Linked DNA regions of Homo sapiens. The protein of the gene in region 1 interacts with the protein of each later gene in a pairwise test. Each region holds a gene or a part of one and is shown in the gene's direction. Other genes may lie near its edges.

Region 1 (4,387 bases):
AACGTGGAGAGATCTTAAAAACACAGCCCTTCATGAAAATATAAGAACCAGAAGGATATATTTGTTCAGTCTCATATTAAACATATATTAAAAACACCAGCATGCCAAACAATACTCATTTTGGAAAAAAAAAATACACATCAGAATGGTTACTTTATAGAGGTGGGAAATGAAAGTGGGTATGAAGAGAAAAAGGAATGAATAAATATGTAAAAGGAATGAAGTGTTGCATAGGGTTGAAAAAGGACAATGAAGCCTATGCTGCATCCCACTAGCATAACGCATCACCTGTTTTCCTTTCTCCTCCCTCCTCCCTTCCTGCCTTCATCCCAGCCAGTTCCCCACAGAGGTAATTACGAGTTGCTTAGCACCAAGTCTGAAATACTACACACACTGTCTCGTGAGCTCTCCACAGTGCAATTGATCCTTTAGCACCAAGTCTGAAATACTACACACACTGTCTCGTGAGCTCTCCACAGTGCAATTGATCCTTTACAGCTTATTTTTATGGCTGCATGATATTCCAGCTGGGAGGGGGAACATCATTCTCTATTCATGAGAATTGAGGCAATTCCTAAGTTTCTAGCAGTAACACTAACTGTGCAAACTTGTCAGCACAGTGACAGTCTGGATTCCCTCCTGGCAGCCCTATCCCCTGACCAAAAAAGGCCCATGCACCCCTCCCTCCAAAAATAAAACAGTGAAGATTATATTTTAGGACTGTATTGGTAAAAACACAGATATAATTCAGGGCAGATTCACACTTATATAGTCATTATTATTCTCATTTTTTTCTTCTGAATTTAAAAGAAATTAAACATTTTCATGAGCCACTAGCCTAATGGATAGGTTTTCCCCGTACTTCGAGGTAATGTTCTACATCACAGCTCCGGCCTGGACTAGAACCCAGGACTCAGTCAAGGCAGCCTGGTTCTGTCCACCGCAGCTGGCAGCTACTCCAGGCCCCACACTGGTTTCTGTCTGTCTCGATCAAGGCCACATTCGGCATGCCGTGGGGCAGGGGCTGTGCTGTGCTGGTAAATGTTTAACAACTGGCTGGCTCAGAGGAAAAGCCCTGGTCTTGGCGTTTGCTAATTTTTGTGGTGTAAATAACCCCATGGCCAATTTTTTTTTTTTTTTTTTTTAGAGAGGTTCTCACTATATATTGCCCAGGCTGGTTTTGAACTCATGGGCTCAAAGGATTCTCCCGCCCTGGCTTCCCAAAGTGCTGGGATTACAAGTGTGAGCCACCGTGCCCAGCCCTCTTAATTTTTAATAATGGCTGTGTTTCACAAAAATTTTGGAAAGTTTAACAACTATCAAGTTGATGCCCCACTATACCAGTGCACCGCTGGCAGAAGGACCCATGAAACCTGGGAAGACTACATTTCCCAGAAGCCTCCTCTCCCAGGACCGGCGTTCAGCTTCCCAGGTTGTTACCATGGAGATGGCTAACAGCTAGAGCAGGCTGTCCTCGGAGGGGTGAGGAGGGAGCAAGGGACTTGGGGTGGCTGGACCCTGTCTGGCAGGGAAAGGGTGAGGCTGGTGGCCCCCTTCTGCCTGGGGGCCTCCAGCCCTGATCTTTCTGGGGAAGTTGTTGGTGGGGTGTGTGTGCGTGTTTATGTGTGTTGGGAGGAGGAAGTTGCTGGTGGAGAGGGGGTGCAGGGAAGGGCCGGTGGGTTGGGGCAGAATCTAAGGAACCTTGAGATAAGACTGCCTTCCCCACACTGGGCTATAGCTGAAGAGGCCACCTGTGTAGGGAATAAAGTGCTGTGGGTTCTTCTCCCCAGCTCTGCCTCTGATGGTGTTCTGGGACTGACACGTCGGCTTCCTCTTCAGCCTACTTCTTTCCTTGCCCACCACTCCCCCACCCCCACCATCCCTTCTAGCACTTCCCCATCTCATATCTCTTCCAGCCTGAGACACACAGGTTTCACAACCAGAAATACAGGGGTTCAAATCCCAGACCTGCTACTTACTGGCTGTACCTTAAGCAGTGCACTTAACTTCTCTGGGCCCCAATCTTCTCATCTGCAAAGTGGGTGTCCTCAGTGTCTGCCTCATAGAGTCAGTAGAGGATAAGTGAGATGATCTCCGTACAACCCTCAGCACAGGTCTGACACACAGTAGGCATTCAGCAAACTGTAAATGCCTTGTAATGGTGATGACTGCCCTTCCTGGGCTCATTGTCTCTGGGACCAAGAGGCCAACAAATGGATCTGATCACTGAGAAGTGCTGCTTGGCTAGAGGTTCTCCCCTGAGGATCTGGGGTCCTGAATGGTGTTGGGCTACCTAGGCCTTGGGTGGCTTCCAGCCAGATGAGCATTCGTCCCCTCCTGAGTCCCAGAGCACAGAATGTCAGAATTGGACAGAAAATATCTGCCCTCCCTTCCTACTATAAAGAGAAACTAAGGCACAGAAAGGCGCAGACAGTGACCCAAGGGTCCAGCAGGAGCTACTGGCAAAGCCAGGGTTTCCCCAACCAGGCTCAGTCGTGGCTGGTGGCCAGGGACTCACCTCCCTAGGAGGCCGAGGTGGCCCATGTGGGTGTGGAGTTGGAAATTGGGGCCAGCCTTTATCTGCTGCTCCCTTCTGCCCTCTTGCTCCTGGCTTCACCCAGGGAAGTGGGGGATGATTAGAAAATCAAGGGGATTCTGCTTTTTTTCCTTACTACTCGCCCCCTTTGTCCTGTGGGTTTCGTTTGTTTTCCTCATCTCTGGACCCCCATTTGCCGTAAGGAAAACAGATGTTCGAGGACAGAAATGGAAAGACCCCAGCTGGGAGGCTGCAGATAGTGCATCAGCTGGGATGGCGTTGGGTGGTGTGGAACAGGGACCCCCATAGAAGCTGAGGTTTCTTATATAAGGAAAGGCTAGAGGTGGCACTCCAGGCCTCTGTGGCACTGCTGGGGACCCCAGCTCCCCCATCTCTCGGCCCTGCCGTCCATAGCAGGCAGCTTTAGCCCTCATGTGTGGCCACCTCATGGTCTCGCCTTGGCTGCCCCACCTCCCACTTTATCTCCACATTCCAGGTGGGAGGAGGAGAAGGGCAGAGGGCTCCCCAATCACTTCTGCCCACATCTCATTGGCCAGAACCGGGTCACATCGCAGGGCCACCTCTAGCTGCAAGAGAATCTGGGAAGCTGAGCAATTCAAACCAGGCACACTGCTGCCCCCCACACAACTGGGGTTCTGCCGTATAGAAGAGGAGACTGGATCTTTGGGTAGGTGACTAGCAGTCCCCGCTCAGTGTGGCTCTGCTCTGTGACCACAGGACATATGGTGAGCACATGTGGCGTCTCTGCGTGGATCACAGAATGAAGCCTGTTCTCTGGGCCAACACAGGCCTTGGCCAAGAGAGAGTAGGCTGTGTTACCCCCACCCCCCACTCCCTGTTTGTATGCCCTGGTGCAGGCACCTTCACTCTCTGTGCCTCGGTTCCCAGTTTGATCAGGTGAGATATCATTCACCTGCCATCCTCATTTTTGGGTGGGTTGTAGATCATATCACCTTACCGTTAGGATTTTCTTTAAACCAATCTATTTATTTATTATTTATTTGAGACAGAGTCTCACTCTGTCACCCAGGCTAGAGTGCAGTGGTGCGATCTCAACTTACTGCAACCTCTGCCTCCCAGGTTCAAGTGATTCTCCTGCCTCAGACTCCTGAGTAGCTGGGATTACAGGCGTGTGCCACCACGCCTGGCTAATTTTTGTATTTTTAGTAGAGACGGGGTTTCGCCATATTGGCCAGGCTGGTCTCGAACTTCTGACCTCAAGTGATCCACCTGCCTCGGCCTCCCAAAGTGCTGGGATCACAGGCATGAGCCACCGCACCCAGCCAATTCATTTATTTAAATAAGAAACTTGACAATACTATAGTAATCCCCACAGCATTCACAGTACTTGTCATTGATAACTGTCAGCTGGCACAATGGCTCATGCCTGTAATCCCAGCACTTTGGGAGGCCAAAGCAGGAAGATCGCTTGAGGCCAGGAGTTTGAGCCTGGGCAACATAGCCAGACCCTGTCTCTACCAAAAAAAAAAAATAGCCAGGTGTGGTGGTGTGCACCTGTGGTCTCAGCTACTGGGGAGGCTGAGGTGGGAGGATTGCTTGAGCCTGGGAGTTTGAAGCTGCGGTGAGCCATGATCGTGCTGCTGCACTCCAAGCCTGAGTGACAGAGCAAGACCCTGTCTCAAAAAAATAAAAAATTTAAAAAAAAAGATAACTGTCAAATATACTAAAAGCAAATCGACACGTGCCTTTCCCTGTCCTGTCCTGAGGATGGCTTCCAACCGGAGGCCTGCTTTGTCTTTGTTGTAAAGGAATATTTGCCAGGATTAGAAAGGTGTTACAGATGGGGTAGCACCAAACAGAGACTTTCTC
Region 2 (3,817 bases), on another chromosome or scaffold:
GTGAAAATATATTTAAAATTTATTTTAGGTATGACAGCAATCTTCCAAAGTTATAGATTGAGTATAAGAGTGAGTTACAGAAAAGAAGTATTTCCAGAAGAAGAAGGCAGGTCACGTAACAAAAGGGAGCAGCAAGTCCTAAATGACAAAATTTCAGAGAAGAGTTTTAGTGATTTACTACTCTCAAATGTAAAATGAGGTTTATGAAAATACTAAGGGCTGAAGCAAAGATCAAATGAGATAATGCTGATCAAACACTTAGCATACTGCTTAGCACATGGTAAAAACCTCATTGGCATTTATTTAGTTTTATAACTACAAAGTAGCTGTATAAACGTGGAAAAGTCACTCTATTCCTCTGATCTTCAAGATGTCTAATTTTAGAAAATGTATTGGTTGTACTACATAATTACAAAGGTCTTTTCACTTTTAGGATTATTCTTTGAATGTCTTCCTAGGAGACTTCATAAAGATTTTTAATGACTTTTCCTACAGTAGTCTACCATAAGTTTTTCCCATTCTAACTGCCTTCATTAAAGAAGGCAATAACCTAGGAAAGTTATTTTTCTAGTTCAATTTCATACCTTGTTAATATAATTCTTATTAACGATAGAACCGATCTTACAATAGAGTATGGTAAAATCAGATGCCTCCAATGAGAACTTGCTGCAGCATCATTCCTCTCTTCTCTCTGATTCTGATTTATAAAAACTTAACAGAGGCCGGATGCAGTGGCTCACGCCTGTAATCCCAGCACTTTGGGAGGCCAAGGTGGGCGGATCACCAGAGGTCGGGAGTTCAAGACCAGCCTGACCAACATGGAGAAACCCCATCTCTACTAAAAATACAAAAAAATAAAAAATAAAAAAAATAAGCTGGGCATGGTGGCGCATGCCTATAATCCCAGCTACTTGGGAGGCTGAGGCAGGAGGATCGCTTGAACCCAGGAGGCTTAGGTTGCGATGAGCCAAGATCACGCCATTGCACTCCAGCCTGGGCAACAAGAGCAAAACTCGGTCTCAAAAACAAAAAAAACAAAACTTATAGATGTGTTTAACAAAAAAAAAAGCCCTCCACATCATAATCTTTTTGTTTTGTTTTGATCTGTTACAGATAGGATAGAGTGGGTAAAGAGGTAGAAGTAGCCAGATTGTTAGGACCTTAAGTGCTATGCTCAGAAGTTTAAAATCTATTTTCCAGGCAGGCAGCAGGGGGAATCTACTGAAAGCATTTGAGCAGAGAAGTGATTTGTGAACACGATATTTAGAAAGATTTATCTAATACAGTTGTGGGAGACAAACGAGAGAAACTAAGGATAAGGAGATAGTATTATGCTAGCTTAGATGTGAAGTTAGTTCCTAAAATAGGGACATGAGTGAGAATGGAAAAGATTAATGCAAGTAGGAAAAAAAATGGACAAATACTGATGATTGGATGTGGAAAGAGACAGAGAACAAGGATAGAGTCCAGTTTCTGGTTGGAAAAATGATACCATCATTGATAGAAATAAGAAAATCTAGAGAGAGAGATACTTTTGTGGGAAATGTGAATTTGAAGGCAGAGGAGGTTATGAAGGTAAAAACATCAGGTAAGCTTTTTGAGATACGGCACTTACACTTGGGACAATTGGGAGAGTCTGTGTAGTGTGAGAGTCCATTGATGGATAGGAACACAGATTGTCTGAGGCCTGAAGTCTGAAGCTTGGTGACTGCCTAATTTCAGGGGCAGGAAGCATTTGTAAATGTAAACAGAGGATTGGCATATATGTATTAAGCATTCAGAAAAGGATGGATGGTGGCAACCTGTGATAAAACAGGTGATTTTTAAAAGTATTTCCAAATATGTTAAAAAAAAAAACTATATATCTTTTAGAAGAACTGCAGTTCTTCTGGATTAGTGTTGTAAGTGACACATTAAATTAGTAGTGAGCTACAAGGAAGAACAAAACACTGGAAAGTTTAAACATTCAGACTCATTCTGTCCTTTAGGCCTGTGAACATACATGACACAAGCCCTATGGGAAAGAAGATTTCATACTCATCACCCTTCTATAATAGGATGAATGAGCCATCTTTAGGAACCTCACTTGGAATACAGTCAGCTCTAAGAGTGTCCTTGCAAACAGGAGAAGTTGAGCACATACCTTACAGAGGACATAGTACATTATTCATCACCCTCACCATCATGCTGGGAGTACATGCATGGTAATTGCATAATTTTACATATTTATCCCTCAAAAGTATACAGAAGAAACTACATATGTAGCACAGTCCTATAGCTTCTAAAGATAGGAAAGGAAAGTTGAGCCCATTCAGTTTATTAAGGATTGAACTTTTGTTGGAACTCCTGAACTCTGAAAAGATTTTCATTGAAATGTGTTTATTCAGATTCACATGTAGATGAATTCTAAACATGGGGGAGCTTCTTACAATTGGATAGAGATTGATTATCATGGGTAACATTGAAGCGTAGCATAGAAAAACAAATATTTATGGGGAAAAAAGATGTCATTTGTATTTGTTTTATAAAATGTAATCAGATTATGTAAAGTTCTCATTTTACGACCAGACATAAAACTCCAAAATAAGTTATATGTGTATAAAACAGGATTTATGACAAAAGTTAATAATACTTGTTGGACATTTTGATATAAGAGTTCTAAAGATCTTTATTCTTCACATTAGCCATGGAAAGCTTTAAATGTAATGTTTTCAAAAGTTTAAGGGCATGGCCTTAACAGTCCATTTAAAAGAACGATCTTAGAGTATTTCCAAAGACTTACTGATTTTAAATTATGATACTTGAAAACAGTAAGTACCAACATGCTTTTACAAGTATATTGTTTAGTTTATAGCATTTATCACTCATATGTTTATACATGTTTTTCACTTTATATTTTGAAACTCTCAAGGGCAGGAACTATGTCTTGTTCATCTTTGAGACACAGAATGTAGTCAATATCGAGTAGATGTGCAAATGAATGGATAGGACTTGGCTGATAGCTCATTATTGGACTTTGAAGGTGTGTTAACTTTGTTCAAAGCACTGACTGAGAGTAATTTTTAGTCTGTAACAGTAACTCCTGGTTCTTAAGGGAAGTATCGGGGGAGGGGAATGCTGAAAATCAGGTCAACATCATGTACACAGGCCATGTGCGTGTGAACGTGTGGTGGGTCTGAAGCATGAGTGAACAACTGGATTCAGCTAGAAAATTAGATTGTAAACATATTTCAGAGGGCCTTGAAGGTCACACTAACCAGTTTGCACTTCTAGTATCATTGGAGCACAATTAAGTTTTAGAGAAAGAGAGAAACTTGTAATTTAGGTCCCTGTCTGGTGGCATTATGAAGTCTGAGTTGGAGAGAAATTGGAGTCAAGGAAACTAGTTTAGGAAACATGTCATTATCCAAGCCAGAGAGAAATGAAGGTCTGAATCAGGGCTCTGGGACTAGAAGGGAAGAAAAACATTTTAGATACTGCACGCATAGAATCAGTTGCCTTTTACAACTGAAAGAAAGCAAGCCAGTCATGGAAGAGGCCTCCTTACCCTTGAGTTTCCTTAGAGCACTGGTTCCCTGGATTCATATGTGTGTGTGCATGTGCGTGAACGTGTGTATGACAGTCATGCTCTGCATAAGGATGTTTCAGTCAACAGTCAACTGCATATATTACAGTGATCCCATAAAATTATAGTATGGTATTTTTACTGTATCTTTTCTATGTTGAGACGTGTTTAGATACACATATACCATTGTGTTACACTTGCCTACAGTATTCAATACAGAAACATGCCATAAGGTTTATATGCTAGGAGCAA

What was found.
Region 2: the proteins of DRC7 (region 1) and MBIP interact in binary tests that used the Homo sapiens proteins (3 or more experiments, as listed by UniProt).

Annotation. Positions count from the first base shown.
Region 1 is NC_000016.10:57,693,371-57,697,757, forward strand, and holds the start of DRC7 (dynein regulatory complex subunit 7), read left to right. Parts: upstream 1-1,435; 5' UTR 1,436-1,482; intron 1,483-3,032; exon of another isoform or gene 3,033-3,093; 5' UTR 3,094-3,224; intron 3,225-4,387. UniProt on the Homo sapiens protein: Component of the nexin-dynein regulatory complex (N-DRC) a key regulator of ciliary/flagellar motility which maintains the alignment and integrity of the distal axoneme and regulates microtubule sliding in motile axonemes.
Region 2 is NC_000014.9:36,303,476-36,307,292, reverse strand, and holds part of MBIP (MAP3K12-binding inhibitory protein 1), read left to right. Parts: intron 1-3,817. UniProt on the Homo sapiens protein: Inhibits the MAP3K12 activity to induce the activation of the JNK/SAPK pathway. Component of the ATAC complex, a complex with histone acetyltransferase activity on histones H3 and H4.